Regions from separate parts of the Homo sapiens genome. Here regions 1, 2, 4, 5, 6 and 7 are each reported to be linked to region 3. Evidence: microRNA targets listed by miRTarBase, many of them from high-throughput screens and not tested one by one. Region 3 holds a microRNA gene; each other region holds the end of a gene's coding sequence.
What was found. The annotated mature microRNA hsa-miR-4755-3p reads AGCCAGGCUCUGAAGGGAAAGU and lies in region 3 at 1,342-1,363, shown strand. An mRNA with a match to its seed (bases 2 to 7 or 8) in the 3' UTR can be bound and repressed. Matches are read on the target gene's strand: a 7mer-m8 pairs with bases 2 to 8, a 7mer-A1 pairs with bases 2 to 7 and ends in A, and an 8mer does both.

Region 1 (4,283 bases), not on the chromosome of region 3:
ACAGAAGTGAAAGTGCCCCTTTCCCATGTAGATAGTGCGGAGGACTGCAGTAACCCTGCTCTCTCACTCTCCTCCAGCCTGCATGGGAGCCCCCTGACAGATGCGGGGCTGGCCTTGCTGAACCCAGCCCTGGCCCTCCACCCTGCCCTCGTGGCTCTGGACCTGGGGGACTGCATGCTGGGTGATGAAGCCATCAACCTCATCTGTGGCCTCCTGCCCCCAGATGGGGCCAAATCTGGTGAGCAGGACCCTGTTGAGGGCTTGGGCTAGTGTGGCAGTGATGAAAATCGAAATGCAGAGGGAAGGGGGTGTGGCCCCAGAGCTCTGATGATGTGGGCGAGAACATCTTTCTACTCCTCTCAGGAAGGGGCAGGACGGGGGGCAGCATGGAGACTCAGGAATCCAGGCTGGGGCAGGCAGAGGAAGCATGGGCCTCCTTAATGGCTCTTGACCTCTATGGTGGGGGTAAGGTGGTGCCCAGCCACTAGGGACACCCCAGAGACACAGGGATTGTGGGGAAGGGCTGGAGGAGGGCTTAACCCTCCCTATTCTGGTTTCTTGCTATGATGCTGCCCAGGCTTGAAGGAGCTAACGCTGAGTGCCAACCCTGGCATCACCCCTAAGGGCTGGAGCCGCCTTGCCATTGCCGTGGCCCACAGCTCCCAGGTCCGCGTCCTCAATCTGGATTACAACCCCCTGGGTGAGGCTCAAGAATACCCCCTTGGGCTGTCACTGCCTCATGCCCTATCCAAGAGCCTGGGACCATCAGTTGACATGGTAACCCGTACACTGGGAGAGGGAAGAGAAACGGGAGCCCCCAGGGGTCAAGGAGATAGCTTTGTGGCGGACCAGGTGACCAACAAATAGATCAAAACATCAGTCACCACCCGTGGGCCTAACTTGCTTCGTGCCTTCACTCACCAATCACAATGATCCCTTCCTGACCACCACCAATTGTCCATGTTTCCTTGGCCAGGGATTAGTATCTAAAGTTGTTAAGGCAATGGGGAAGCTATCTGTAAGGATTAGCAGGCATGTGTATGAATGTGTGCACGTGTGTTGTCTCCCCAGGTGACCATGTGGCAGGAATGCTGGCTGTAGCTGTGGCCTCTAGTCGTACCCTAGAGGTCCTAGACTTGGAGGGCACAGGGCTCACCAACCAGTCAGCTCAGGTGGGAAGTCGTCATGTTTGGGCACGGCCAGGGGATGGGGTGGAGGTTAGTTTATGTGTCTGATGACATACCTAAGGCATGGCAGGTTGAGGTCTGAGGACCTGCCTTAACTGTGTTCATCCTTTTCCATATTCTTCCCCACTTCAGACCCTGCTGGACATGGTAGAAAATTACCCCACAGCTTTGCGGAGCCTGGTGTTGGCTGAGAACAGCATTAGCCCAGAGCTGCAGCAACAGATCTGTGACCTCCTCTCTGAGGGAGAGGAGGAGGAGGAAGTGGCAGGAGGGGCTGGCGACACCCAGGAATGGGAGAGAGGGCGGGAGCCTGCTGCCCACCAGAGAGGCAGCAGCTCCTGGATGTGCCCCAGCGGTAAGAACCCAGAGGGTTGATCAGAGCCAGGTCTGGAAGAGGCTCGGGACAAGGGAGAGTGGGTGTGCAGAACCTAGGCTCTCACCTATCTGTGGTCCCCATTGGAGGAAGGAATGGTGGTCTGAACACTTCTCTGCCCTTCCACAGATCCCAGCTCTCAGATGGTGCTAATGACGTCAGGACTAGGGGACAGTCTGTTGGCTGAGACCGAGATGTGACTCTCCACTGGGCCTCTGCACACCATTTCACTTATCTATGTCCCGAGCACCTTGCCCCAGATATCAGGGTCAGGCCCTGGGACTTGGGAGGGAACTGGGGTCAGGGGCTGCATGGGGGCTCTGGCAGCTCCTGGCAGTGTGGTGGGAAGGAAGCTCTGGAAGCTGTGACTGAGCAACAGCCTTGGGGGGCACTTGAACCCACGGCAATGCCTTTGAACTTGGCAGCTCTGGCTGCAACCCGCTGGCTCGGAAAAGATTTTATGAACTCCACAACCTGTCGTGTGGCTGTAGTCACTTGGGGCCGGCAGTAGGGGAGGAATTGGAACTACCAGTAAGCACCACTAGGGGGCAGTAGCATCGCACAGCCCAAGCTCTAAGCTGCGTGACCTGGTCCAGGATCTCAAAATAGGCCTGGCCAGGCCTAGAACCCAGGCCTCTGAGGCAACACCTTACACTAGCCCCATAAAGATATGGTCCCTGCCTCCGAGGGAAGACTCAGGAACCCTGCTAAGGTTACTTAAGGTGCCCCCTTTCCCGCTCCCTGATGCTCTGTGCCTAGGGAAACCCTAGGCAGAGTGGGGCGAGGGGGAGTCACTAGCCGACTAGGATGAGACTAGGACTGGGAATACTTATGAATGGGGAGAAAAGTGGGAGAGGGGAGGTCATTAAGACAAGTTAGGCCATACCAGTAAAATAGTTTTATTTGATTTTAAAATAGTCATCAATGTGAAAATTTCTCAAAGCTTAAGAGTAACAGTCTAGAGCCAAGGTTGGGAGTGGGGGCCAGGCCTCACACAGAGCCCAGCTTGAGGCCCCTGAGCCCCACCCTCCTTTCCAGAGGGAGGGAGGAGACAGCTGAGGGGGCCCTGAATCAGTCCTCTCCCTCGTCCCCAAGGCCAGCTGTGCCAGGCCCCTGGAGGGCAACAGCTCATGCGGAGGACTGGGGGGGGAAGCAAACAGGTAGGAAACGGAAATGAGGTTAACAATTACACCATCACCCCCAAAAAAAAACAAAATAACAAAACTTGTGACTATGAAAGGATGGAAGATGAATACTGATAAACTCCTCAGCTCCCCAGAAAAGCCCAGTCTGGGCTGGGTTGGGCTGATTGGAGGAAAGGTCTTGAGACCCAACTGCATGTTACCTCTGAAGAATAAATATTCTAAGAAAAAGGGAAAACCATGAGGCAAGCTGCTGCAGTCAGTCAACGCAGCTGACAGGCCTGGCATGGCCCACAACCTGACCCCATCCACACAGGAAACAGCTGTGCGGGTCTGGATAGAGGAGAGGTCAAGGGCTTGGACTGGGGACCCTGAGCTGCCAAGGTGTGGGGACTCCTTGCAGTCCTGGTGCAGCAATGGCAGGAAGGCCAGCAGGGGCCCTAGTTGAGCAGGTTGCCCTGCTCCTGGGCCTGGGTCAGGCTGTCCTTGCGGTGCAGGTGGTGAACCCCCATCCTCTTGGGGCTGCGCTGGGGGCGACTGGAGCTGGGGAGTGGCCAGGCCCTGCCCTCGGTGTGGGAAGTGCCTGGCCCCTCCTCTGTGCCCCTGTTAATGGGCAGCAGGCTCTGGCGCTCTTCCTCAGGACTGATAGGCAGGTTCAGCTCTTCTTCCTCCCTGGGAAAGCCAGAGTCAGGTTCTGTGGGTAGCAAAAGCTCACTCTCTTCGGGTCGGGCAGAAGGTGCCTGGACCACCTCATCTCTGTCAGCGGGGCTATGGGCAAAATGGCGCTGCAGCTCAGGGAGGGCATCGCGTCCAAAGGCTGTGCGCTGGGCCACAGCAGCAGGTGGTGGAGTACGGTCCACAAATGCCCGCTGCCAGCTGACCAGCAGGTCCTCTTCAGAGCTGGCAGAGCTAGCTGGGGCACTGAGTGTTAGGGGTGCTGGGCTGGGCTGGTGGTGGGGTGAGGCCTGGGCTGAGGCAGGGGTGCTGGGCACTGGGCTGGGGCGGGCCCGCTCACTCCCCTCCTCTACCAGGCTCAGGGAAATGGCCTGGCGGGTAGCGTAAGTGCAGTTGGGCAGGGGGCTGTTGCGGGGGATCCGAACCTTATCCTCAGAGAACTCTATTACCCTGCGGCCAGGATACAGTGGGTGTGGTGGAGACGGGGTTGGGTAGGGGTTCAGCTTCTCAAAGGCTGGCAGGGGCAGCTCTTCCTCCGGGGAGCCCCTGGCAGTACCCAGAGAGTGGCACTCCCCATTGGGTTGTGGGGTGGGGCTGCCAGGGGCCGGGGGACTGGCTGGATCACCTGGGACACCCTCACTCATGTCCACATGCACAAAGACATCCTCAGCCAAGGGGCGCCCGGCGCTGCCTGACTGGGCTGAATTGAGCAGTAGAGACTCCGGCTTCTCTAACACTCGGGCAATGACTGAGGTAGGCACCACAGCCCCTGGGGCTAGGCTGGGAGCAGGACCTGGGCTGGCGGCCTCTTGACCACTGTGCAAATGTTTCCGAACCATGTCCTGTAGCTCACAGGGCAGCTGAGGTAAAAGAGCAGGAAAGAGAGACATCAATGATCGCAGCCAA
Region 2 (4,283 bases), not on the chromosome of region 3:
CTTGTGAAAAGGGAAACATGTTAAAGAGGCAGAGAATAAAGAGAGAAAAGAAAGATTTCAGACAAGTGATAGTGAATGACTGTCACTTACCTGAAAGCTTCAAAGAAGAGGAAAACCAGAAATGTAAGAAATCTGGAGGAAAATATAGCCTTAATTCTGGCGCTGTTAAAAATCCAAAAACCCAGCTTGGACAAAAGCCTTTTACGTGTAGCGTGTGTGGGAAAGGATTTAGTCAGAGTGCAAACCTCGTTGTGCATCAGCGAATCCACACTGGAGAGAAACCCTTTGAATGTCATGAGTGTGGGAAGGCCTTCATTCAGAGTGCAAACCTCGTTGTGCATCAGAGAATCCACACTGGACAGAAACCTTATGTTTGCTCAAAATGTGGGAAAGCCTTCACTCAGAGTTCAAATCTGACTGTACATCAAAAAATCCACTCCTTAGAAAAAACTTTTAAGTGCAATGAATGTGAGAAAGCCTTTAGTTACAGCTCACAACTTGCTCGGCACCAGAAAGTCCACATTACGGAAAAATGCTATGAATGTAATGAATGTGGGAAAACATTTACTAGGAGCTCAAACCTCATTGTCCACCAGAGGATCCACACTGGGGAGAAGCCCTTTGCCTGTAACGACTGTGGCAAAGCCTTTACCCAGAGTGCAAATCTTATTGTACATCAGCGAAGCCATACTGGTGAGAAGCCATATGAGTGTAAAGAGTGTGGGAAAGCCTTTAGTTGTTTTTCACACCTTATTGTGCACCAGAGAATTCACACTGCAGAGAAACCTTACGACTGCAGCGAATGTGGGAAAGCCTTCAGTCAGCTCTCTTGCCTTATTGTCCACCAGAGAATTCACAGTGGAGATCTTCCTTACGTGTGTAATGAATGTGGGAAGGCCTTCACATGTAGCTCATACCTACTTATTCATCAGAGAATTCATAATGGAGAAAAACCTTACACATGTAATGAGTGTGGGAAGGCCTTCAGACAGAGGTCGAGCCTCACCGTGCACCAGAGAACCCACACTGGGGAGAAGCCCTATGAATGTGAGAAGTGTGGTGCAGCTTTCATTTCCAACTCACACCTCATGCGACACCATAGAACCCATCTTGTTGAATAACAAGTAAGGAAGAGGAAGACCTCCAGCATTGGTCATAACCTTCTGCCTCCCTAATGAGACACCTCTTTGCTGTTTTCTTCCTCCTCTATAAAAGTGAGGGCTGTGTCCTTAAAAGTTATAGTTTTCAGGAATGCAGCAGAAGACACAAGAAAAGCATTTCAGAGGCTAATTTAAAACAAAAAGTAAGCACCTAAAGGCAAGGACTTTGTTTTAACTGTACCTTAAGCGGTCATGTTCTCTGAAGTGGAATGTGGCTTTCCTAGGAATGGGTCGTACAAAGCTAAGTGGTAATGATGCTATTTGGGGAAAGGTCTTTTTTGCTTAATTTTGTTTTTTAAAACTCTGATGATTGCTTGAGCAACAGGCAGGTTATCTGCCTGGTTGAATTCTGGTTGAACCGTGTATTCTAATATTTCTGGTTAAGTGGTGACTGGGTAAGGAAACCACTTGGGGTAGCAGTTCAACAATTCACTTACGAATGTTTATAAGCTTTCCATTTCCTAGGTAATTTTTTAAAAGCCAGTCAAAACAAAAACTTTACTGAAAATGGACAGAAATAGGAAATGGACTTTTTCCTTACTGTCTATACCTCCTGAACCTTGGTATTGTAAAGATCTGGGGACCTCTGGGTCTGTTCTGACCATTCCCTAGTCTCCATGGCCAAGCACTCAAGGATTGATGGACACCACACACCAGCTATATTCATTTGCCAAGATCAACAGCTCCTTCTCCAAACAACTCAAGCCCCCAATTCCCATCGCATTCCATTTGGGTGAGATGCAACTAACAGCCCCTTCCTGGATGAAGGAGTCAAAGAATAAAGCTTGCCTAGAGGCATGCCCCAGTTGTCTCTGCTGTCATTCTGCTCAAGTCCAGCCAGGGGTCTCAGTTTGGGTTTCATTCTCACATTCTGGATGGTGTTTAGAAGAAATAGTGGAGCTCTTCTCATTCTGAGAAGACCAAAGAGGGAAAGTGATGGGAGAGGGGAGGTGGAAATAAGATTCCTAAGGTCTTAATTTGATTTTTTGAGAAATTCAGAGGTATTGGAATATGAAAAACTTTTAGAAGGATGAAGAAACTGGCCAAGGTAAGATATCTTTGTTACCATTCAGCCTTTACTCCTGGAAAAATGATTTATAAAACTATGCAATAGGTAGAGTTATGTAATAATATTGCCTTGTATTTATATAGAACTTTTATTCTTTGTTGTGTACCCTTATGTATTGATCATGATACCTGGCACGTATCTCACGCTTTCACATAGATCACCTACCTCAGTCCTTACAACACTGAAACAGGTGGTTGCCCATTTACCTGAGAATGGTCATTTAGTGCAAGGCCAAGTAACAAGTGACAGCTTATATCCAAGTCCAGGTCCTGAATCTAGATTCTCTGTTCTGCCATGCCACTTGCCAAACACCTGTAATCCCCATGCAGACCTGTAGGGGAGACAAAGAAAGGGGTGTGTAGTCCCATTTTTCAGGTGAGGAAGCTGATGTGACAGATGTTTGGAGTGTGCCTTAGGCACTGTGACCAGAAATCAGCAAACCTAAGACTAGAATTTGGGTCTCCTGATTTCTGGCTCTGTCCCTCCATGCTGTTCCAATGCCTCAGGGCATGCAAGAGCATTTATCATAAATGCTGAGCCTGATGCAGCTCTCATGCAGAAGTCCCATGCATTTATTATCACATTTCTGCAAGACTAAATATTAATCACATAGTGTTTTCTAGTTTACAGAGCACTTCTTTTGTGTGTTAGTTTTGTTTTGTTTTTGAGATGGAGTCTTAGGCTGGAGTGCAGTGGCACAATCTTGGCTCACTGCAACCTCTGCCTCCCAGGTTCAAGTAATTCTCTTACCTCAGTCTCCCGAGTAGCTGGGACTACAGGTGCATGCCACCACGCCTGGCCAATTTTTTTTTTTTTTTTTTTTTGAGACAGAGCCTTGCTGTGTTGCCCAGGCTGGAGTGCAGTGGCACGATCTTGGCTCACTGCAACCTCCGCCTCCCGGGTTCAAGTGATTCTCCTGCCTCGACCTCCTGAGTAGCTGAAATTACAGGTGCACGCCACCACCCCCAGCTGATTTTTGTATTTTTAGTAGCAGTGGGGTTGGTCAGGCTGCTCTTGAACTCCTGACCTCGTGATCCACCTGCCTTGGCCTCCCAAAGTGCTGGGATTACAGGAGTAAGCCACTGCGCCCAGCCTTTTTTGTATTTTTAGTAGAGACGAGGTTGCACTATGTTGGCCAGGCTGGTCTCAAACTCCTGACCTCAGGTGATCCACCTGCCTCGGCTTCCCAGAGTGTCAGGAATACAGGCACGAGCCACCATGCCTGGCCTACAGTGCACTTTCACATACAGAAGGCATACACAAGAAAGCTTATTAATTTCCTTTTTCCTCCCTCCTCTAGTTTTTTTTCCAAAACATATGCAACTTACTTTCCCAGTTTCACTCTAAATCATAGAGACACAAATACAAGAAATCAAAAGGATTCAAAAGTAGGATCAAATACTCATGCCCTCACCAATCCTAACAGTGACTGTTCCAGTCTCCCTGATGGAATGGAGAGACCCAAATAAACCACCCCCTGTCTCTGCTGAGAGTAGGAACAAGTTAGTTTTTTCCCCCTGCCTTATCAGGAAGCTGAGAATATCAGGAGAGCAGGTCTGAAGATTTGAGAAAACTCTGTGACCTTGACCCACCAAGAGACAGAAACTACTTTGCTTAAAGAATACCTGCTGGGATTTATGACCATTAAGACAGTTAAACCATTCTACCATCACATATGTTTATCCTCATAATATTCAGTTATGGATGATTGTGATTTTCACTCATAGGTAGTTCAGAAAAGCTACGCAGGGGATTATGATGCAAAACTAGGTTTGAGATTCACTGACCCAACCTTGCAGTAAAGCAGTGGTTTTAAACCTTGGCTTCATGTTAGAATCACATTGGGCACTTTTTTAAAATTTCCATTTCTAGACCTCTGTATTTTTTAAAACTCTGGAGGGGATTACAATGACAAGCAAAGGTTATGAGCCACTGTAGCAAAAAGTAAAGGCTGCAGGCCAAGAATGTGTGTGATCAAAGGTGGAGGGGGTGGGGGTGCTCCAGTATAAGGATCTGTACGTGCAAAGCATTCTATGTATTTTTAGCAGAACAGG
Region 3 (4,283 bases):
CTGTTAGCTCTTTGAAGGCCAGTATCCCTAGGAGATAGCAGCAACGTCAGCACTGCTCTGATTCCCTGACCAACCCCCAACCCCACCTTTGCCCTCAGAAATACCCTGGACCCTTGTTTCCTTCCTCAAGTTCAGACCCCAGAAATGTTGGGCAAGAAGGAGCCTCCAGGCCAGGCTTTATTGTGCCAGATGTTATATCTGAGTAAGCAGGATTGTTACACAGCAGAGATACAGGAGCAGAGCAGGTAGCTCAGGCAGCTGCTGATGAACAAAAGGCTTCTTCTCTCTGTTCCCAATAAATTGGTCCTTGGGGATCCTAGCTTTGAAATTCTAATTGACACAGGAAGGAAAAGATTCATTAGGCTCTGGACTCGTTAAAATGCTCTGCTGCTCACCTACGATTTATTCTTGGCACTTCATCAAGAGGAATTAAGTAAACCAATGGGCTGGGAGGCTCCTGACAGCAGAGTCGTGTGTCTCTCGTGCTCCTGGGGGGATGAGAGTGTTGGGTCTCCTATGCTATGGAGCATATAGCTGGCTTTGGAATCTCCTCATCCCTAGGACTTCACATGAGTCTAAGTCTCATATGCTTTTAACAATGGAGGGACCTTCTGAGATCATACTGTGTAACTCATTTATAGATGGTCCAAAGAAGAACTGGGACTTGCTCAAGATCACGAAACGCATTAGTAGTGGAGTTAGAATTAGAATCAGTCAGGCTGCATGACTTCCAGGTCAAGAATATTTTCTCTGCGGCCGGGCGTGGTGGCTCACGCCTGTAATCCCAGCACTTTGGGAGGCTGAGGCAGGTGGATCACGAGGTCAGGAGATCAAGACCATCCTGGCTAACACGGTGAAACTCCATCTCCACTAAAAATACAAAAAATTAGCCGGGCGTGGTGGCGGGCGCCTGTAGTCCCAGCTACTCGGGAAGCTGAGGCAGGAGAATGGCGTGAACCCTGGAGGCAGAGCTTGCAGTGAGCCGAGATCGCACCACTGCACTCTAGCCTGGGAGACAGCGAGACTCCGTCTCAAAAAAAAAAAAAAAAAATTTTCTCTGCATCACCTTTGGATTTCTACACCCAGTGTTTCATTCATTCAGCCTTCAACAGATACTTTTAACACATTCTGTGTGCCAGGACTCTGTGATAAACAAAACAGCCATGGAGGAAAGTAAATACCTGACCCAGTATTAGGAGAGATTAGAAAGGCCTCCAAGTCTGAGAGATGGATAGGAATTAGCTCAGCAAGGAGAGATGAGGAAGGTTATGGCTGAGGAACTGGCATCTATGAAAGCCAGATTCAGCTTTCCCTTCAGAGCCTGGCTTTGGCATCTATGAAAGCCAGGCTCTGAAGGGAAAGTTGAATCTTGCTAGAGTGGAGAATTGAGGAAGAGATGAGATGTTAAGGCAAGCCGAGTCTATGAGGTTTGGGCCACTGTATGGTTGTAAAGAACCCTGGATCTGGGATTAGGAGTCCTGAGTTCTAGATATGTTTCTGCTACCAATATGTTAGTCATCATTCTAGTAACACTTCACATCTTTTAGGTGTGCCATGATGGGCACTGGGGTACAAAAATGTGTAAGATGTATGTAGTCCCCTCCCTCAGAGATCTGTCAGTTTAATGAGGCAAGCAGGCTAATTAAGAACCCCTGTAGTAAAGGAACAGTTACCTCTGCTGTAAGAAGTCAGAATTGAGCTGTGTGTTACTTTAAGCACTTTCTCTGGGCTTTGATGATCTCACCTGTCAAATGGTAAATAACCACTGTCCTATGTAGCTGGTAAACTGATGAGAAGACAGACAACTTTGTAATGATTGGCGTTTGTTTGGCATTTTGTGGATTTCAAAACACTTTTGACATCATTAATTCATTGAACCTTAACTGCAATCTTATGACTTAGGAAATTTCCCCACAATGTACAGATGAGGAAACTGAGAGAGGTTGAGGCTTGTTCATAGTTTCACAGCTTTTGATTAACAAAAGTTAGGATTATAAATCCAAATCCCGTGCTCTTATTTTGAAAAGTATAAAGATGGCAACCTTTCTTTCTATCCCCTACTTAGTGGCAAATTATCCCCTTCCCCTTTTCACAGTCACCAGAAATGCAGAGAATGTCTGCTGTGTTTGAAAAGCAGATCTAAGCTGACTGGGGAGAAAGAAAGGAGCTTATTTCAGGTCTTCTTCAGGCTGGACTCTAAACTTTTAAGATCATGTGCGCCCGTGCTCCCATCAGCTCCTGCTGTTCCATCTCATGCCATTTACAGAGTGCCATTTACTGAGCCACTACTTCATTGGCTACTCATAGCAACTTGTGGGGTAGACAAAGTGCACTTTACAGATGGGCAAACTGAGGTCCAGAGTCCCTGAATTGTACATGTCAGAACCAGGATTGAATCTAGAAGTCTTGGGCTCCTGACACCAAACAGGTGCTCTTAACTTGCAGAATGTAGGTTCCTTTGATTCAGTTCGGTTCAAACAATTCTTGAATATAACCCATGTGCCAGAGACTTTGCTATGCAAGAGAGCCTCTAGTTAGGCTCAAACCGTCTTGGTCTAGTGCCTTACTTAAGAACAGGGACTTGTATTATTTACTTCTCTGTCCCCAGGCAGGACCTTGATCCAAAAATGCTTTGCTGTTGTTTTTGGCCTTAATCTGCCAGAAACTAGAGGGAGCAGATGGCCACAGCAATGTGGGTTATGAGGATGTGATATCAGGCAGGGTTGAAGGATGAATTGAGAGCCCTGCACCCAACTACTTCTGTGTCTGTGCCTAGGCCCTTGTCAGGGTAGTCTCTATCTGAGAGTGTAGCTGGTCAGCCTGGTCCCATTTCTCATTTCCAGTCACCTCCCCCTCTTGCCATCCCATATAATGGGGTTAGTCTCCTGGACAGATCTCATACAGAGGCTGCTGGGATCTGCTGTCCAAATGACCCTTTGGACCTATTTCCCAGCCATGTTCCAAGATGATGGTGAGGAGTCTAGCCCCACAGCCAGTATGCTATCTCTATTCAGATAACTCCCAGCTCACAGGCCTCCCACCAGGCTCTCACCCACTCTGATGTTTTCACTCCTGACTCCTAAGAAGCAGATTGGCAATTTAGTGTGAGTCTGTCAGACAGCCTAGAGAGTAATCAATACTGAGAGAAATGGACATATTTCCTGTTTATTCAAAATCCTGATGAAAATTTTAAGGAGCACTATTTGGGAAGGGATGACTGGGAACCTTGCAAGAACAAACAGCTTAAAATTCATGAACAGAAATAGCAACGTTTATTCATGATGTTTCAAATGCCCCTAATATTCACATCTTTATATATTACAGACCCCTTTCATACGTGTTACTGCTTTTGAACCTTAGAGCAACTCTGTGAGGGAAGCAGTGTAAGGATTACTATTCCCACTTGACAGTTGAGGAAACTAAGGCCCAGGAAGCTTTAAAGAGAGTTAGGGACCATCTGATAGTCATGGTGGCAGAGCCCAAAACAGAACCAAGATTTGGAAAATGAGTACTCCTGGGTTTGAAATCTGGTGCTCGCCACTTTCTAGTTGTGTGACCTTTGGCAAGTTACTTGGCCTCTCTGAGCTCAGTTTCCTTCTCTGTAATACGAGGATAACAATGTCTACTCCTTATGGTTGTGTATGGATTTAATGATATAATTAATGGAAAATGCTAGCACAGTACAGAACATGTGTTAGGAGCTTAGTAACTGCAGGTATCCTATCTCATAGGATAGCGTTTTCAGTATATTGCACTCTGAGTCTTTGAAATTTGATACTTTTTTTTTGTTTTTGAGACAGAGTCTCGCTCTGTTGCCCAGGCTGGAGTGCAGTGGCGTGATCTCCGCTCACTGCAAGCTCCGCCCCCTGGGTTCATGCCATTCTCCTGCCTCAGCCTCCCCAGTAGCTGGGGCTACAGGCGCCTGCCACCACACCTGGCTAATTTTTTTTGTTGTTGTTGTTGTTTAGTAGAGACGGGTTTTCACCGTGTTTGCCAGGATGGTCTCCATCTCCTGACCTCGTGATCCAGGTGCCTTGGCCTCCCAAAGTGCTGGGATTACAGGCGTGAGCCACTGCGCCCAGCCTGATACTTTCACTACAGTAAAATGGACTACATATAATAAATTCTCATTAACCAGAGTATCATTTAAATGCCTCACTAGGTTAAGAGAACTGGATAAGAAGGGAAGCAGGGTGCTCCAGGCACTGGCTAAGTACTCCTGATGCAAATCACAGTAGGTTAGAGCTGACAGGGACCCTAGAGATCTGTCCCAGTGTGTCTTC
Region 4 (4,283 bases), not on the chromosome of region 3:
CTAGAATTATAATTCTCCCTGGAACAGGGGCCACTTCTGGCAGCTGTCGGGGGTGAGGGTAGAAGCTGGAAGAGGAGGAGGAAGCAACTGCCCTAGTACAGGTGAGAGATGAGGTAGCATAGTCCAGGCTGGTAGCCGCAGAGATGGGAAGAAGTGGGCGGATTTGCTGGTGTATTTTCACCTAGCTGAGTGTATTTTCACTGTGGTTTAGTAAGCATCTTCTGTTACTGCCTGCAGCCCAGGGGGCATTCAACCCCATGTTTCTAGAACTCTGTTCCTGCTGCTGCTGTTGGCAGCCTCAGCCTGGGGGGTCACCCTGAGCCCCAAAGACTGCCAGGTGTTCCGCTCAGACCATGGCAGCTCCATCTCCTGTCAACCACCTGCCGAAATCCCCGGCTACCTGCCAGCCGACACCGTGCACCTGGCCGTGGAATTCTTCAACCTGACCCACCTGCCAGCCAACCTCCTCCAGGGCGCCTCTAAGCTCCAAGAATTGCACCTCTCCAGCAATGGGCTGGAAAGCCTCTCGCCCGAATTCCTGCGGCCAGTGCCGCAGCTGAGGGTGCTGGATCTAACCCGAAACGCCCTGACCGGGCTGCCCCCGGGCCTCTTCCAGGCCTCAGCCACCCTGGACACCCTGGTATTGAAAGAAAACCAGCTGGAGGTCCTGGAGGTCTCGTGGCTACACGGCCTGAAAGCTCTGGGGCATCTGGACCTGTCTGGGAACCGCCTCCGGAAACTGCCCCCCGGGCTGCTGGCCAACTTCACCCTCCTGCGCACCCTTGACCTTGGGGAGAACCAGTTGGAGACCTTGCCACCTGACCTCCTGAGGGGTCCGCTGCAATTAGAACGGCTACATCTAGAAGGCAACAAATTGCAAGTACTGGGAAAAGATCTCCTCTTGCCGCAGCCGGACCTGCGCTACCTCTTCCTGAACGGCAACAAGCTGGCCAGGGTGGCAGCCGGTGCCTTCCAGGGCCTGCGGCAGCTGGACATGCTGGACCTCTCCAATAACTCACTGGCCAGCGTGCCCGAGGGGCTCTGGGCATCCCTAGGGCAGCCAAACTGGGACATGCGGGATGGCTTCGACATCTCCGGCAACCCCTGGATCTGTGACCAGAACCTGAGCGACCTCTATCGTTGGCTTCAGGCCCAAAAAGACAAGATGTTTTCCCAGAATGACACGCGCTGTGCTGGGCCTGAAGCCGTGAAGGGCCAGACGCTCCTGGCAGTGGCCAAGTCCCAGTGAGACCAGGGGCTTGGGTTGAGGGTGGGGGGTCTGGTAGAACACTGCAACCCGCTTAACAAATAATCCTGCCTTTGGCCGGGTGCGGGGGCTCACGCCTGTAATCCCAGCACTTTGGGAGGCCCAGGTGGGCGGATCACGAGGTCAGGAGATCGAGACCATCTTGGCTAACATGGTGAAACCCTGTCTCTACTAAAAATATAAAAAATTAGCCAGGCGTGGTGGTGGGCACCTGTAGTCCCAGCAACTCGGGAGGCTGAGGCAGGAGAATGGCGTGAACTTGGGAGGCGGAGCTTGCGGTGAGCCAAGATCGTGCCACTGCACTCTAGCCTGGGCGACAGAGCAAGACTGTCTCAAAAAAATTAAAATTAAAATTAAAAACAAATAATCCTGCCTTTTACAGGTGAAACTCGGGGCTGTCCATAGCGGCTGGGACCCCGTTTCATCCATCCATGCTTCCTAGAACACACGATGGGCTTTCCTTACCCATGCCCAAGGTGTGCCCTCCGTCTGGAATGCCGTTCCCTGTTTCCCAGATCTCTTGAACTCTGGGTTCTCCCAGCCCCTTGTCCTTCCTTCCAGCTGAGCCCTGGCCACACTGGGGCTGCCTTTCTCTGACTCTGTCTTCCCCAAGTCAGGGGGCTCTCTGAGTGCAGGGTCTGATGCTGAGTCCCACTTAGCTTGGGGTCAGAACCAAGGGGTTTAATAAATAACCCTTGAAAACTGGATCGGATGAATTGGCTTTCATTGTGTTCCTAGCATCTTCTCAAATCAACTTCCCAGGACTCCAGGGTGAAGGAGGAAAAGAGGCATGGCCCAGGCCCTGGGGTGTGGGATATGGTCTCCCTAGGGGATGACAGTTGGGATCAATGGCCTGTGACTTCTCCTCTCCCTTCCCCCATCCTGGGACCTAACTGGAAATAAAACCTTGACTGTTGCCCGGGTGTCATTTTACCAGTGGATTTCTGCCAGGGCTTGTGTCCTAGGAGAAGGTTTAAGTTAAACCAGATTGCCCAGGTCTCCAAACGATTTGTCATGCTGACCTGAGATCATCGAAGGGGGCACCTGCCCCCGGGCAAGGTTGCAGGGGCAGGATGGGGCTGAAGGGATGAGCAGGGTCCCGGGCCCACCTGCTGATACAGCATTGGCCATGTGGGGGCTGCAATCGGATTTGGAAGACCCTGGGGCTTGGGGGCATGTCCAGTTTTCCCAGCTCCCTAAAAAATGACCATGCAGCCTGGCGCCGTGGCTCATGCCTGTAATCCAAACACTTTGGGAGGCTGAGGCAGGCAGATCACCGGAGGTCAGGAGTTCGAGACCAGACTGGCCAACATGGCAAAACCCTGTCTCTACTAAAAATACAAAAATTAGCCAGGCACAGTGGCACGTGCCTGTAATACCAGCTACTTGGGAGGGTCAGGCAGGAGAATCACTTGAACCTGGGAGGCGGAGGTTGCAGTGAGCCAAGATCACGCCACTGCACTCCAGGCTGGGCGACAGAGTGAAACTGTGTCTCAAAAATAAAAATAAAAATAAAAAGACCATGCCTACATCTGTGGTCATTCCAGGCAAGGCAATGAAAAGGCAGGGTTCTGAGGTCCAGCAGGGCTGGGTTTGAATAGGATCCCTGGCCGGGCACGGTGGCTCATGCCTGTAATCCTAGTACTTTGGGAGGCCAAGGCAGGCAAATCACGAGGTCAGGAGTCCAAGACCAGCCTGACGAATATGGTGACACCCCGTCTCTACTAAAAATACAAAAATTAGCTAGGTGTGGTGGCAGGCGCCTGTAATCCCAGCTACTCCGGAGGCCGAGGCAGGAGAATCACTTGAACCCAGGGGGCGGAGGTTGCAGTGTGTCAAGATCGCGCCACTGCACTCCAGCCTGGGCGACAGAGTCAGACTCTGTCTCAAAAAAAAAAAAAGAAAAAAAAGGAATAGGATCCCTCACTTGCTGTGGTATGCGGGGCAAGTGTTTTATGATCTCTGAGCCTCAGCTTGCTCATCTGTGAAATGGGGATCCTAGGGAAAGGGAAGGCCTGGCTTCTGGCTTAGTTAAGGGGCAGATTAAGAAATAAAAAGAGGCTGGGTGCAATGGCTCACACCTGTAATCCCAGCAATTTGGAAGGCTGAGGTGGAAGGATCACTTGGGGCTCAGGGGTTGAAGACAAGCCTGGTCAACACAGGGACATCTCGTCTCTACAAAAAGTTTAAAAAGTTAGCTGGGGGTGGTGGTGTGTGCCTGTGGTCCCAGCTACTTAGGAGACTGAGGCGGGAGGATCACCTCAGCCTGGGAGGGCAAGGCTGCAGTGAGCTATGATCACACCACTGCACTCTAGCCCTGGGCAACCGAGCAAGACCCAGTCTCAAAAATCGATAAATAATAATAATTAATAAGAAAAGTCATCAGCGAGTTGGCCAAGGTCACTCAGCAGGGCTATGGGGGCTGTGATCGCATGGACTGTCTCTATGGCAACAGCAGTGAGGATGACAGGTGGCCAAACTTGGTCCGGGAACGTATAATAGCTCAATCTTTTGAATCTAGCGCTCCCGAATTACTATGGCAACCGTAGGGCACTGGGCCAGCTCAAGGAGAGGGCGAGGGAAGCCTGGAGCCACGCCCCCTGGGCACGCCCCCGCACGGCCTCTCCCCATTGGTCAGTTCCGGAGGCCCCCACTGCGCGAGCAGCTATAAGAAGGGCGGGCGGGACCGGCGGGGGTGTGGAGACTCGAGCCTGGGGTCGGCGGAGACAGCTGGTGTCTGAAGCCGCTCGCGCCCAGGTGAGTGCCCTGAGGGCGGCGTCCGGGAGCGCCCCCCCGGGCTTAGGAGAGGAGCTCCAGATAGGGTGGTTGGGCGAAGGTCCGGCGGCGTGGGACGGGTATGACCGGCCAGAGCAGGTGGCTGGGACCCTTGGCCCGGTTGGCCCCAGCTCAGGACCCAGTTGGGCGAGGACCAGGCCTCAGAGGACGCGGGGTGGCAACCGGAGGGATCGCAGGCGGCAGGTCTGAGGCCCGAGGTCGAGCTCCCCCCCTGTAACTC
Region 5 (4,195 bases), not on the chromosome of region 3:
AAGGGGTACAAGAGGATGATGGAAAGGTTCTGTATCTTGATTGTGGTGGTGGTTTCCCAGGTGTATATGGTATATCTGTCAAAATTCATAGAATTTTACACTTTAAGTGTATAATTTATTATATGGAAATAATACCCCAATTTTTTTTTTTTTTGAGATGGAGTTTCGCTTTTGTTGCCCAGGCTGCAGTGCAATGGCACAATCTTGTCTCACCACAACCTCTGCCTCCCGGGTTCAAGTGATTCTTCTGCCTCAGCCTCCCGAGTAGCTGGGATTACAGGCATGTGCCACCATGCCCGGCTAATTTTGTATTTTTAGTAGAGACAGGGTTCCTCCATGTTGGTCAGGCTGGTCTCAAACTCCGAACCTCAGGTGACACGCCCACCCCGGCCTCCCAAAGTGCTGGGATTACAGGCATGAGCCACTGCACCCAGCCTTCATGTATAACTTTTAACTCCCTGTAAACTTAATTACTGTTGACCAGAAGCTTTACTGATGACATAAACAGATTACCACATATGAAGTATATTCTATGTATTACACACTGTATTCTTACAATAAAATAAGCTAGAGAAAAGAAAATGTTATGCCTGTAATCCCAGTACTTTGGGATGCTGAGGCAGGAGGAATGCTTAGGCCAGGAGTTTAAGACCATCCTGGGAAATGTAGTGAGACCCTGTCTCTTTAAAAAATTAAAAAATTAGCTGGGTATGGTGGTGGGCACCTGTAGTCCCAGCTATTCAGGAGGCTGAGTGGGAGGATCGCTTGAACCTGGGAGGTGAAGGTTGCACTAAGCCAAGATCTTGCTACTGCACTCTAGCCTGGGCAACAGAGCAAGACACTGTCTGAAAAAAAAAAAAAAGGTGGGGGGGGGAGAGAATGTATTTACTATTCATTAAGTGGAAGTGGATCATCATAAAGTCTTCATCTTTGTCGTCTTCATGTTGAGTAGGCCAAGGAGGAGGAAGAGAAGGGTTGGTTGGGGCAACAGTGGGAGAAGAGGCGGAGGAGGTAGAATAGGGGGTAGCAGGGGTGGGGGTTCAGGAGAGCCAGGCATACTTGGTATAACTTTTTTTTTTTTCCAAGACGGAGTCTTGCTCTGTTGCCCAGGCTGGAGTGCAGTGGTGCGATCTCCGCTCACTGCAACCCCCGCCTCCCAGGTTCAAGCAGTTCTGTTGCCTCAGCCTCCCAAGTAGCTGGGATTACAGGCGCCCACCACCACAACCTGCTAAATTTTGTATTTTTAGTAGAGATGGGGTTTCACCATGTTGGCCAGGCTGGTCTCGAATTCCTGACCTCATGATCCGCCCACCTCAGCCTCCCAAAGTGCTGGGATTACAGGTGTGAGCCACCGCACCTGGCCGGTATAACTTTTATTGGGACAAATCCACATGTAAGTGGATGAATTTGAACTGCACAGGTCCATTTATATGTGGATTTTCTTCCACCTCTGGGGTAACATTTCTATCACCCTCTTAAAAGTTTTCTTGCACCCTTTTGCAACCAAACTCTCTCTCAATCCTTGACATTCAAGCAACCACTGGTCTGCTGTCACTATAGTTCAGCTGGCATTTTCTAGAATTTATCCCATGGGAAAAACCAAGGCAAATGTACAATGATATATGTACATTTATCTCAATGTTATTTAGAGTTGTCAACTGGAGAAAAACTTAAATGACCATTATTAACAGACTGAATAAATAATGACCATCTATACAATAAAATACTGTACGCCAATTGTAAGAGTAAATACAGTGTGAGGGTAAAATTTTTTACATAAGTAATACATGGTACATTCTGTTATACAAAAGGAAACCATTACAAAAAGGCTAAGGCCCTTTTGTCACTCCCAACCCAGAAGATCACTGTAAAAGTTTCAGGTGCATTTTTCCAGGCTTTTTCTATACATGTATACATCTACGTGCATATTTATATACACATAAAAATATATAATAATTTTTTTTTTGAGACGGAGTCTGGCTCTGTCGCCCAGGCTGGAGTGCAGTGGCTCAATCTTGGCTCACTGCAGCCTCTGCCTCCCTGGCTCAAGCTATTCTCCTGCCTCAGCCTCCCGAGTAGCTGGGATTACAGGCACCCACCACCACGCATGGCTAATTTTTTTTGTATTTTTAGTAGAGAGGTTTTCACCATGTTGGCCAGGCTGGTTTTGAACTCCTGACCTCAAGTGATCTGCCCACCTCGGCCTCCCAAAGTGCTGGGATTACAGGCATAAGCCACCGTGCCTGGCCATATAATGTTTTGAAGGTACTCCTTGTCCTGTGTCCAGTTCTGCAACCTGCCTTTTCTACTCAACAATGTCTTTGTAATCTCTTCATGTTAGTACACACACTATACAATTTATCTTTTTCTCAATAGCTACCTATAATGGACATTTCATAGTGTATTTGGGCTTGCCTTTACTGAGAAATCTTTAGATGAATTCTAACTTTTTGCCATTGCTAAATTAAATTTATATGTATTGATATAGAAATATCTCTATATTATATTAAGTTTTTTAGAAAGCTGAAGTGGAATATTTATATGGAAATAAACTTTTATATAGGTATCAAAAAGATTGGAAGGACACCAGTTTGCACAATTATTTTAGTGGAAGGAAGGAGGTTGGTTTATAAGCAGGCTTTGACTTTTTCTTTTTCTTTTTTTTTTTTTGAGAGAGTTTCACCCTTGTTGCCCAGGCTAGAGTGCAATGGCAGGATCTTGGCTCACCACAACCTCCGCCTCCTGGGTTCAAGCGATTCTCCTGCCTCAGCCTCCGGAGTGGCTGAGATTACAGGCATGTGCCACCACGCCCGGCTAATTTTGTATTTTTAGCAGGGACAGGGTTTCTCCATGTTGGTCAGGCTGGTCTTGAACTCCCGACCTCAGGTGATCCGCCCACCTCAGCCTCCTAAAGTGCTGGGACTACAGGCATGACCCATCACGCCTGGCCTTTTTTCTCTGAGACAGAGCCTTGCTCTGTTGCCCAGGCTGGAGTGTGGTGGCTCCATCTCAGCTCACTGCAACCTACGCCTCCTTGGTTCAAGCTATTCTCCTGCCTCAGTCTCCTGAATAGCTGAGATTACAGGTGTGTGCCACCATGCCTGGCTAATTTTTTTGTATTTTTTTTTAAGTAGAGATGGGTTTCACCATGTTGGCAAGGCTGGTCTTGAACTCTGACCTCAAGTGATCCACCTGCCTTGGCCTCCCAAAATGCTGGGAATACAGATGTGAGCCGCTGCACCCGGCCAGACTTTGACTTTTCCAATTTTTTCAATGATAATCTTTTTTCCTGATAATATGTTCACAATCAAGTAATACCAGGGACTGCTGAGAAGTGGATGATGAAGGGTGATAAGGTATAGACTGTGCCCTTCTCTTTGCAGCTCCTGAGAGGGGATGGGAAGGGATTTTGGGAGGGTGAGAAACAGCTTTGTCTGCCCAGAGCAGCTCTGAAGGTGGCCCAGTGCAGAACAGGATCTCTGAAGGCAGAGCGGGACACCCATTCTGGGGATGGAAAGAGGGAAGACCGTTGAGGCCATTTCCCAGGTGGAGGACTAGGGGTGGGAGAAGTGACCTTCTGCTTGAGGATCCAGTCCACCCTTCACCCACTTCAGACATGGACTTGAGACAGAGAAGAGATTTAAAACCAGATTTAAAACCATCAGCTCCCAGGAGTGTGGCCTCCTCCACCTGCTCCCCAACTTTTCTGGTTCCAAAGGTTCAAGCCAGGCTCAACTCCCACTCCTCTAGTCTCCAAATAAGCGTAGCACGGAGAGTCTGAGTGACAATCCACTTTAATAATCCAGCTTCAGCTCAGCTGAGAACTTCCCCTCTCAGGTGCAAAGGGATGGCAGAGAAGTCTTTCCAAGAGGGCTCAATCCACTAAGAGATTATGGCTTAGAGAAGGGAACAGCTCAAAGAAGCCCTATAATGGGAGGCAACATGGAGTTTGGAATTAGTGAGTGACCAGATGGAGATGTCCTGCCACCCACCTCCCACCAACATATGTTCCAGCAAGAGAAGCACCGAGGTTTCATCTGTTCTTGACAGCCACCCCAGTCTTCTCAGCCCTGATCCCCTCTTCCCATCCCCTCATTTTCCATTTCTTTGGGTCAGGGCCCCTGAGCCTTGAGAAGAATAAGGACCGTTGTTTTATCTCTTTTTTCTCTTTTGTAGAGACATGGACTTGCCATGT
Region 6 (4,283 bases), not on the chromosome of region 3:
GGCCAATGAGTGACTTCAACCTGGGGAATGTGAGTACTCAGGCTCCTTGCTCAAAAGCAGGGGAGTGGGTGAGGGTGGGTCAATGGGGCCTGAATGGCATGGCTGGTGCACTGTGAATGGGGAGATCTAGGTGGGGTGGGTGGTGGGGAGATCTCCTCTCCCCGGAGGTAACATAGCACTGCCAGCTTGGGGCTCCTCTCTTCCTGCGTTTGACCCTACTCCTGCCCCTCTATTTCTGCTCAGCTTGCTCTTTGATGACTTCTGCCTTGACCCGTTCTCTTCCTGGCATGCACATGCTCTGGCCCAGCAGGTACGGTGCCCATACTTACTTCGGGCCCCGTGCTCGCTTCTGTCGCTCTGCTTGCTGCCACCTCCCTCTGTCATTGCCTCTGTTCCTGGGGTGGATGAAGGTTGCTGGGCAAAGGGGATATGTTAGCAGGGCTAGGCAGGACACCAGTTCTAAATCCTACTTCCTAAAGATTTGTCTGTATGTCTATAGCTGGAGCAGTTCAGCATGGAGAGCCCATCAGCCAGCCTGGTGCTGGATCCCCCTGGCTTTTCTGAAGGGCCTGGATTTTTAGGGGGTGAGGGGCCAATGGGTGGCCCCCAGGATCCCCACACCTTCAACCACCAGAACTTGACCCACTGTTCCCGCCATGGCTCAGGGCCTAACATCATCCTCACAGGTGAATGGGGGTGGGTGGTGATGGGAAATGGAAGGAGGAAGTGACACATTCACTAATGAGTAGGAGATTGAGGGGTCTTGGAAAAGTTTACAGGACATGGGGTCCTCACCTGTCTCTTCTACCCACAGGGGACTCCTCTCCAGGTTTCTCTAAGGAGATTGCAGCAGCCCTGGCCGGAGTGCCTGGCTTTGAGGTGTCAGCAGCTGGATTGGAGCTAGGGCTTGGGCTAGAAGATGAGCTGCGCATGGAGCCACTGGGCCTGGAAGGGCTAAACATGCTGAGTGACCCCTGTGCCCTGCTGCCTGATCCTGCTGTGGAGGAGTCATTCCGCAGTGACCGGCTCCAATGAGGGCACCTCATCACCATCCCTCTTCTTGGCCCCATCCCCCACCACCATTCCTTTCCTCCCTTCCCCCTGGCAGGTAGAGACTCTACTCTCTGTCCCCAGATCCTCTTTCTAGCATGAATGAAGGATGCCAAGAATGAGAAAAAGCAAGGGGTTTGTCCAGGTGGCCCCTGAATTCTGCGCAAGGGATGGGCCTGGGGGAACTCAAGGGAGGGCCTAAAGCACTTGTAACTTTGAACCGTCTGTCTGGAGGTCAGAGCCTGTTGGAAAGCAGGGGTAGAGGGGAGCCCTGGAAGCAGGGCTTTTCCGGATGCCTAGGGGTGGGCAGTGCCAGCCCCTCCTCACCACTCTTCCCCTTGCAGTGGAGGAGAGAGCCAGAGTGGATACTATTTTTTATTAAATATATTATTATATGTTAATAAAAAAATCATATCAAACCCTTGGTGTGGTTAGTTATTTGGGGCATGGCTGGGGATCTAGGGAGTTATAGGGCCATGGGTCTTTTTATCTATTAGGCTTTTTGCATCTTCTTAGCACCACTGTGCTTTGTGGAAGGGCCCCACAGCCTCGGAATTTGTACCCAGCTGGATGTAGGCTTCCACGGCAGCAGGAAATCACTTCATGTGCCCTCCTGTCTGTCCAGGGCCCTGCTGCAGCATCAGATGGGGGCTTTGACTGATCAGACAAGTTATTCCTCTTCCTCAACCCTAGGTCTGGCAGTGAGTCGGGTAAGGAGGTGATTGCTGGCTGAGCCCACAGGTCTGAAGTGCTCCTAGGTCTCAGGGAAGCAAGCCTTCATCCTCACTCCCTCACTATGCATGCATTCACTTCACCCTCTCCACTCTTCACCACTCATTCATTTTAGTTTTAATTAAACAGATCCTTCAGTGCCATGCATGTTCTGAAGGTTTTCTCTTTCTGGATTGGGTTGCCAGCCCTTGGACCAGCCGTGTGGGCCTCTGCACCCCTCACTCCCCCAACCCGCATAGTGAGAAAAGTAGAGCCCCGCAGTTACCTTACCCCCACCTCCACTGCTCTATTCCACACCCTGCAGTCCTGGCCTCTCTTCCTCTTTCCAAAGCTCTTGTCATTTTCAAAAAAGAGAACTGAGAGCTTCTGGTTCTGGTCCAAAGGGAATGCCCTGTGCCCTAAACCTGGAAGTAGGGGGAGCCACCTGGGTCCCCGTAGACTAGACCTTCGGGACTTCACCTGCGCCCACATCATGCTTGCCACATCTGACTGCAGGACCCAGGCGGGAAGGGAGCGCGCCGCGGCCCTCTGGGTCGCCTGGGGTCAGTGTCCTGAGGCACGGGCTGGATGGTGGGAAGCTACCTGGGTGCAGGGGGCCCTCCCAGCCGCCAGGGGTCGGGCTGCAGGCGGCTGGGCTTTGGGCAGACGCTTGCCAGGGTCACGGCCGCCGGCCGAGGAGGAGGGGTGGGGGTAGCGGCGGCGCCCGCGGCCCGGAGCGGGGGTTGGGGGAGTAGAGAAAGCGGGGCGCGCGGAGGAACGCTGGGTCCCCGGCGCCGCGGGAGCTGGGAGGACCGAGCCGGCCGAGCGAGCAGCGCGGCAGCACAGTCCCCGCGTGGCGCAGCGCGGCGGGGACGCGGGGACCGCCCGGATCTCCTTCCACTGCGCCCCGCGCTCTGCGGTCCTCGGCCGCCTCTTCTTCCTTCACTCACTGCCCGGGCGGGAGCGGCGCCCAAGTCGGGTGCGCCATGTCTGGGGCCGGGTAGCCCCGCCGCCCGCCGGCCCGCCAGCTCGCCCTCCGAGCCACCCGCCAGCGGGCCGGCCGGCCGGGAAGCGCGGGACAGGCAGGTAGGGGCTGGACCGGGCTGGGCGGCAGGCGGGGACGGGCAGGAGGGAGCGCGGGCGGCAGGCGGGGTGGGGGATGGCCCCCAGCTGCTGTCCCTCACTGCACATCTGGTTCCGGTTCCTCTCTCCTGGGGAAGTGAAAGTGGAGGGGAGGGCACCTCCCGCAATTAGCTCGCCGTGCCCGGCCTCCTGCACCCCCTTCTGCTCCCGTGGGTGCCGGAGTCGGAGCCGCCCTCCCTCCCGCTTGGGTCACGCGGCGGCCGGCGCTGCTGCCGTCACGTCCTCGGCCGCCGGCGCGCCTGCTTCTCTGCCCTCCTGCTCCTTCCTCAGCCTCCTCCCCCTCGGCGCGCCCTCTGCCCCAACCCGAACTTCCCGTCACCCGGCACGCGGGCGTGGGGACCCGGAGTGGGCCCTGTGCCCGTTGTCTTCCCTAGGGAGAAAGGGCTGCTTTCTGCAGGACTCTTCCCTGGCTTGGTGAGGGGAGGCCCCGGTGCGCAGGTCCTGCGGATGGGTGCCACCCACTTGCCCCTCAGAAGGTCCCACCTAATGGCCTCTGCCTGCTGCCTTGGGCATAGGGCTCCCATTCGCCCTCAGTGGATGAGGGACAGGTCTGTGCCCCAGAATTAAATCAAGAGGCTGACGCTGACTCCTGGCTTTACCTCCCAGAAGTGGAGTCTAAATTTAGCTGGGGTTGGTGTGTGTACGTGTGTGCGTGTGTGTGTGCGTGTGTGTGTGTGTGTGTGTGTCCAGAGGCCAGGTGATGAAGAAAGCCAGCCTGGCTCTATGAGATTCCTTATTCCCTGTTCTCTGGGGGAACAGCAGGAGGTTAGCAGGACTGCACATCCTGGAACCATTCTGAGCCTCCTCTGCCTTGCTCAGGATCCTATAGTCTGAGATTCCAACTTGGCGTAATGCTGTGCTGGCACCTTCAATGGTAACCCCACCACCGCCACCGCCACCACACACACCCATAGGCTGACTTCCTCTGAGTTGCAGCTTCCCCTCCACTGTTTCAGGAAGTAACCTCCCTTCCCCTCTGAAGCACCCCCCACGCTTCTGGGCCCCTGCTGCGAGCTACCCACCAGGCTTTTTCCCAGCTTCTGCACCCTGGGGCGCCTCAGGACCCTTGGGGCTCCTACTCCCCGGGGTTGGGCCATGGAGGCAGGTGAGAACTAGGCTGTTGTGGGCCTGTTTCTGTCTCTGGGCTCCATGGTGGAGGGTGTGGGATGGCCGGGACTTGTCTCTCACAACTGCTTTGGATCTAACGAGCTACCTAAGGATCCTGGAGGTGTGAGAACACTGGATTTTGGGCCAGATTGGTGGAGTTAAGCTAGGAGAAAGGACACTTGGGTTCGTTGAAAAGACTCTTAAAGCTTGGGTTTTGTGGGCTTTCTCAGAAACCCATGGGGTCCTCTTAAAAACCTAGGAGTGGGCTCTTT
Region 7 (4,283 bases), not on the chromosome of region 3:
TGGAGTTTTATCATATTGGCCAGGCTGGTCTCGAACTCCTGATCTTGTGATCTGCCCACCTCGGCCTCCCAAAGTGCTGGGATTACAGGCATGAGCCACCGTGCTTGGCTAGCCTAAGCTTTTTATCTAGTTGTACCTTTTTTCTTCTGGCTCTGAAATTCTGTGAATTTTGAATTCTCTGTACTTTTCAAGTATGGGAGCAGCTCTGAAATTTAGGGAAGTATCGCCCCCCTAAGGACAAAAGAGAGACTACAGCATATTTAGCAGTCGTCTCCCCAACTCAGAAAGTGGGTTTTCCGAAGGAGCAGTTCACCTTTTCTGGAGCAGGGAACCCAGAGGGAAGAGACTCACCCATGCTGAACACCTACTGTGTGCCTGGTGTTGTGCTGAGTGCCTACTGTATGCCTGGTGCTGTGCTGAGCACTTTGTACAAGCCCCCTAATCCTTATAAAAGCAACCCGATTAGGTGGCAGCCATTATCCCCATTTTGCAGATGAGGAAGCTGAAGCTCAGAGAGGCTAACTGACTTGCTCAAGGCTCACAGCTAGTTGATGGCCCAGACTGGCATTTGCATCTAGGCTTGTCTGTCCCGAAAGCTGATGTCCTTCCTGCTGTCGCTCAAAATACACCTCCCTTTTCCTTTCCCTTCCAACACCTCAAATAGCACAACCCCCTGTCCAGCACAGACCCAGGGAAGACCCCTCCCAGAACCCTGGCCTGCTGGCCTGGCTCCTCAGCCCCCGCTAACGCTGTGCCTACCTCCCTTCTTGCCTGTCTCAAGGCAGCACTGTACGCAGCACCCTATAAGTCTGACTTCCTGAAAGCGCTCTCCAAGGGGCAGAATGTTACGGAGGAGGAGTGCCTGGAGAAGATCCGCCTCTTCCTAGTCAACTACACGGCGACCATCGATGTCATCTACGAGATGTACACCCAGATGAACGCTGAGCTTAACTACAAGGTGTAGGCATGCCCACTGCTGGACACGTCCCCGACTCGTGGCCACATGGAGAAACAGGCAAACCAGAATCACTGTGAATCAAGTCGGTGAACTGCCCCTGGCCTGTGTCCCCCAGAGCAGCCCAGGGTCCTGCCAGAGTCTGCAGGGGACAGCCCTCGTTTTTTAAGTCTTTTTTTTTTTTTTTTTTGGTCTATTCTAAAGGACCAGTAAATAATGATCTTACTTCCAAATCTCCTTGGAATTTCACGACAGCACAGACTGACTTTATACCTTCATTTCAGCGTGGTAAAAACCGATTAACACTTCTAATGAGTCAAGTCCTAGGGTTTTTTGGTTTTGTTTTGTTGCCAACGAGGAACACAGCTCTGGGGGAATGGTGTCATCCACCTCGCTTTAAAAATAAGCACATGATGGCTGGGCACCGTGGCTCACGCCTGTAATCCCAGCACTTTGGGAGGCTGAGGCGGGTGGATCACCTGAGGTCGGGAGTTTGAGACCAGCCTGGCCAACATGGTGAAACCCCATCGCTACTAAAAATATAAAAAATTAGCTGGGCATGGTGGCGCACGCCTGTAGTTCCAGCTACTCAGGAGGCTGAGGCAGGAGAATCGCTTGAACCCGGGAGGTGGAGGTTGCAGTGAGCTGAGATCGCACCATTGCACTCCAGCCTGGGCAACAAGAGCGAAACTCTGTCTCAAAAAAAAAAAAAAGAGGTGGGTGGATTACTTGAGGTCAGGGTTTGAGATCAGCCTGACCAACATGGTGAAACCCTATCTCTACTAAAAATATAGAATTAGCCAGGCATGGTAGCGCACGCCTGTAATCCCATCTTCTTGGGAGGCTGAGGCAGGAGAATCGCTAGAAACTGGGAGGTGGAGGTTACAGTAGCCGAGATCGCGCCACTGCATTCCAGCCTGGGCAACAAAAGCGAAACTCTGTCTCAAAAAAGAAAAAAAAGAAAAAAAAGCACGTGACCTTATGAGGCTCTCGCTGTATTGTTATTTTAAGGACTATAAAGAGTTTGATTTAAAATTATGCAGGGCCCCTATGTGGGATTTTTTAAAAAGCAAACTGGTGTGTATTCTCATGTGGTTTGCACAGCCCAGCCTCACAGCACTATTGTAAACCCTGCTCTTTCTGTCTCGCTAGACAGATTTTTTTGTTTGTTTTCTTTTTTCTGGTTGTTTTTTGTTGTTGTTGTTGTTGTTTTACAGCTGAAACCAACCAGCAAGCCCTTGATGACCAAGAGGCGTTTCTTTCAAAGCTATAGGGCACAAACAATTGACCATAGATGACTCCGTTTGCATTCTTCTGCAGAATTATTTCCTTCAGGGACAGATTTTCCAACCTAAGAAACTACCTACCGTGTGTATTCTCTTGACGGGGAGAGATGAACCCTTCAGCTGCTAAGATCCAAGAAAACGCCTCACTGCCTTAACCTTAACTGTTCTTCCTGGCGCTAAAAAGAGCTGTATTTTTTAAAGTGCTGGGGCAAACAAAGCAACCCCAAAAGAGTTGATGTGTGTTTTAAAAGAAAAAACCCAATGAGGAACAATTGGAGATTTTTATGCAGAAACTAAATAATCCTTAATAAATAAATCTCTATTTTGGAATCACATCTGTGCACTGTATTGGTTCTTGATTTTTTTTTCTTTCCTGCATCAGAAATTACAACTGGGGACCCTTACAAATCCTACCAAGAATGTATTTTCTGGCGTCCATGGTTTTAAAATTTTATTTATCTATTATTTTTAAATGTTTTTGTAGAGATTGGGGTCTTGCTATGTTGCCCAGGCTGGTCTCAATCTCCTGGCCTCAAGCAATCCTCTTGCCTCAGCCTCCCAAAGGGTTGGGATTACAGGCATGAGCCACTGCACCAGGCCTGGCCTCCGTGGTCTTAAAAAACAGAACTGGTTGCTGCATGGAGAAACGGGAATTTCACATAAGAATCTTGGGTTTCGGCAGGGTGCAGTGGCTCACTTCTGTAATCCCAGCATTTTGGGAGGCCGAGGTGGGTGGATCACTTGATGTCAGGAGTTCGAGACCAGCCTGGCCAACATGGTAAAACCCCATCTCTACTAAAAATACAAAAATTAGCCAGGTGTGGTGGCGGGTGCCTGTAAACCCAGCTACTTCAGAGGCTGAGGCAGGAGAATTGCTTGGAACCAGGAGGCAGAGCTTGCAGTGAGCCAAGATCGCACCATTGCACTCCAGCCTGGCTGATAAGAGCGAGACTCCATCTCAAAAAAAAAAAAAAAAAAAAAAAAAAAAAAAAAAAATCTTGGGTTTCTGTAGCCATAAAAAAGAATGAGTTCATGTCCTTTGCAGGGACATGGATAAAGCTGGAAGCCATCATTCTCAGCAAACTAACACAGGAACAGAAAACCAAACACTGCATGTTGTCACTCATAAGTGGGAGTTGAACAACGAGAACACATGGACACAGGAAGGGGAACAACACACACTGGGGCCTGTCAGGGGTGGTGGGTAAGGGGAAGGAGAGCATTAGGACAAATACCTAATGCATACAGGGCTTAAAACCTAGATGACGGGTTGATAGGTGCAGCAAACTACCATGGCACGTGTATACCTATGTAACGTATAATTAAGAAAAGAACCTTGGGTTTCTAGCTTCTTTTGAAAAACCAGGCTGCCTGGTGGGAGCTGAGAGACGACTGCCCCCTTGGCTGGGCAGGGCAAGGGAAAGGGGAATCAGTTCTTCACTTTGCCTTAGTCTCCACCCATCCCTGTTGCCTCCCCACCCCGGACCAGTTTGCACTTTTTCATGGGCTGTTGTTTTTTCTTATTCTAGGGTTAAATGTAGAGGGAAATATTTATTTTATTTTGTTCCTGCTCCTATAGAGCTTATAATCTAGTGGGCAAGATGGACCGGTAAATCAATAATGATGAAATAGAGTGGTCAGTTCCCAGAGGGAACCTGGAGCCTCAGAGGAGAGGCAGTGTCCTGGGATGTATCTTAGGGAACTGGGGCATGCATCAAGCCTCTGTGGAAGTTCGGGGGTAGGGAAGCCTAGTAGAAGAGGAGGGTCAGGGGACACTTCAAGGCACAGGCAAAGACCTGGTGGCTTGACCCAGAGCAGGCTGTGTATGTGTGTGTCACATTGCACCATTAAGAGATTTGAACCTGACCCTGAAAATTATGGACACCTTCAAGACTCTTGTGTGCAATTGCATATACCCAGGTATATGCAGATACCCAGTTTGGAAAGCTCCCTCTAACGTGGTCAAGAGATGGAAGCCTGAAATAAGTTTTTTCCTGTCTGTGATTTTATTATATTTTCTCTTTCTCTTCCTGCCTTCCTTC

Region 1: the mRNA of TJAP1 is a reported target of hsa-miR-4755-3p. Seed matches in the 3' UTR shown: 8mer at 2,664-2,671 and 7mer-m8 at 2,543-2,549.
Region 2: miRTarBase lists ZNF35 as a target of hsa-miR-4755-3p. The part of its 3' UTR that is shown has no 7-base or 8-base seed match.
Region 4: the mRNA of LRG1 is a reported target of hsa-miR-4755-3p. Seed matches in the 3' UTR shown: 7mer-m8 at 2,482-2,488.
Region 5: the mRNA of DNPEP is a reported target of hsa-miR-4755-3p. Seed matches in the 3' UTR shown: 7mer-m8 at 3,725-3,731 and 7mer-m8 at 2,156-2,162.
Region 6: the mRNA of CRTC2 is a reported target of hsa-miR-4755-3p. Seed matches in the 3' UTR shown: 7mer-A1 at 1,101-1,107.
Region 7: the mRNA of GLTP is a reported target of hsa-miR-4755-3p. Seed matches in the 3' UTR shown: 7mer-m8 at 1,458-1,464.

The regions. Positions count from the first base shown.
Region 1 is chr6:43,504,715-43,508,997 of GRCh38, reverse strand. TJAP1 (tight junction associated protein 1) reads right to left here. Exons shown (of 11, transcript NM_001350562.2): 11 at 2,444-4,237. The coding sequence ends at 3,143. LRRC73 (leucine rich repeat containing 73) reads left to right here. Exons shown (of 6, transcript NM_001012974.4): 2 at 78-238; 3 at 578-700; 4 at 1,072-1,172; 5 at 1,320-1,542; 6 at 1,690-2,030. The coding sequence ends at 1,760. Among named protein-coding and RNA genes, the nearest start is that of LRRC73, 3.5 kb to the left of the region's middle.
Region 2 is chr3:44,658,827-44,663,109 of GRCh38, forward strand. It overlaps ZNF35 (zinc finger protein 35), which reads left to right. Exons shown (of 4, transcript NM_003420.4): 4 at 1-1,965. The coding sequence ends at 1,121. ZKSCAN7-AS1 (ZKSCAN7 ZNF cluster antisense RNA 1) reads right to left here. Exons shown (of 3, transcript NR_157564.1): 2 at 2,436-2,560. Among named protein-coding and RNA genes, the nearest start is that of ZNF35, 12 kb to the left of the region's middle.
Region 3 is chr20:34,047,821-34,052,103 of GRCh38, forward strand. It overlaps MIR4755 (microRNA 4755), which reads left to right and starts at 1,299; the gene lies at 1,299-1,370. The region is part of intron 2 of RALY (RALY heterogeneous nuclear ribonucleoprotein); the gene reads left to right.
Region 4 is chr19:4,534,906-4,539,188 of GRCh38, reverse strand. LRG1 (leucine rich alpha-2-glycoprotein 1) reads left to right here. Exons shown (of 2, transcript NM_052972.3): 2 at 238-2,787. The coding sequence ends at 1,249. It overlaps PLIN5 (perilipin 5), which reads left to right and starts at 3,965. Exons shown (of 8, transcript NM_001013706.3): 1 at 3,965-4,024. RefSeq lists an enhancer at 4,259-4,283.
Region 5 is chr2:219,370,418-219,374,612 of GRCh38, forward strand. It overlaps DNPEP (aspartyl aminopeptidase), which reads right to left. Exons shown (of 15, transcript NM_012100.4): 15 at 1,626-3,925. The coding sequence ends at 3,875. Among named protein-coding and RNA genes, the nearest start is that of DNPEP, 15 kb to the right of the region's middle.
Region 6 is chr1:153,944,861-153,949,143 of GRCh38, reverse strand. CRTC2 (CREB regulated transcription coactivator 2) reads left to right here. Exons shown (of 14, transcript NM_181715.3): 12 at 1-29; 13 at 500-686; 14 at 815-1,469. The coding sequence ends at 1,035. DENND4B (DENN domain containing 4B) reads left to right here and starts at 2,426. Exons shown (of 28, transcript NM_014856.3): 1 at 2,426-2,843. RefSeq lists enhancers at 1,855-1,924, 2,736-3,236, 3,705-3,754, 4,075-4,174 and a silencer at 2,315-3,214.
Region 7 is chr12:109,849,236-109,853,518 of GRCh38, reverse strand. It overlaps GLTP (glycolipid transfer protein), which reads left to right. Exons shown (of 5, transcript NM_016433.4): 5 at 782-2,574. The coding sequence ends at 964. Among named protein-coding and RNA genes, the nearest start is that of TRPV4, 18 kb to the right of the region's middle.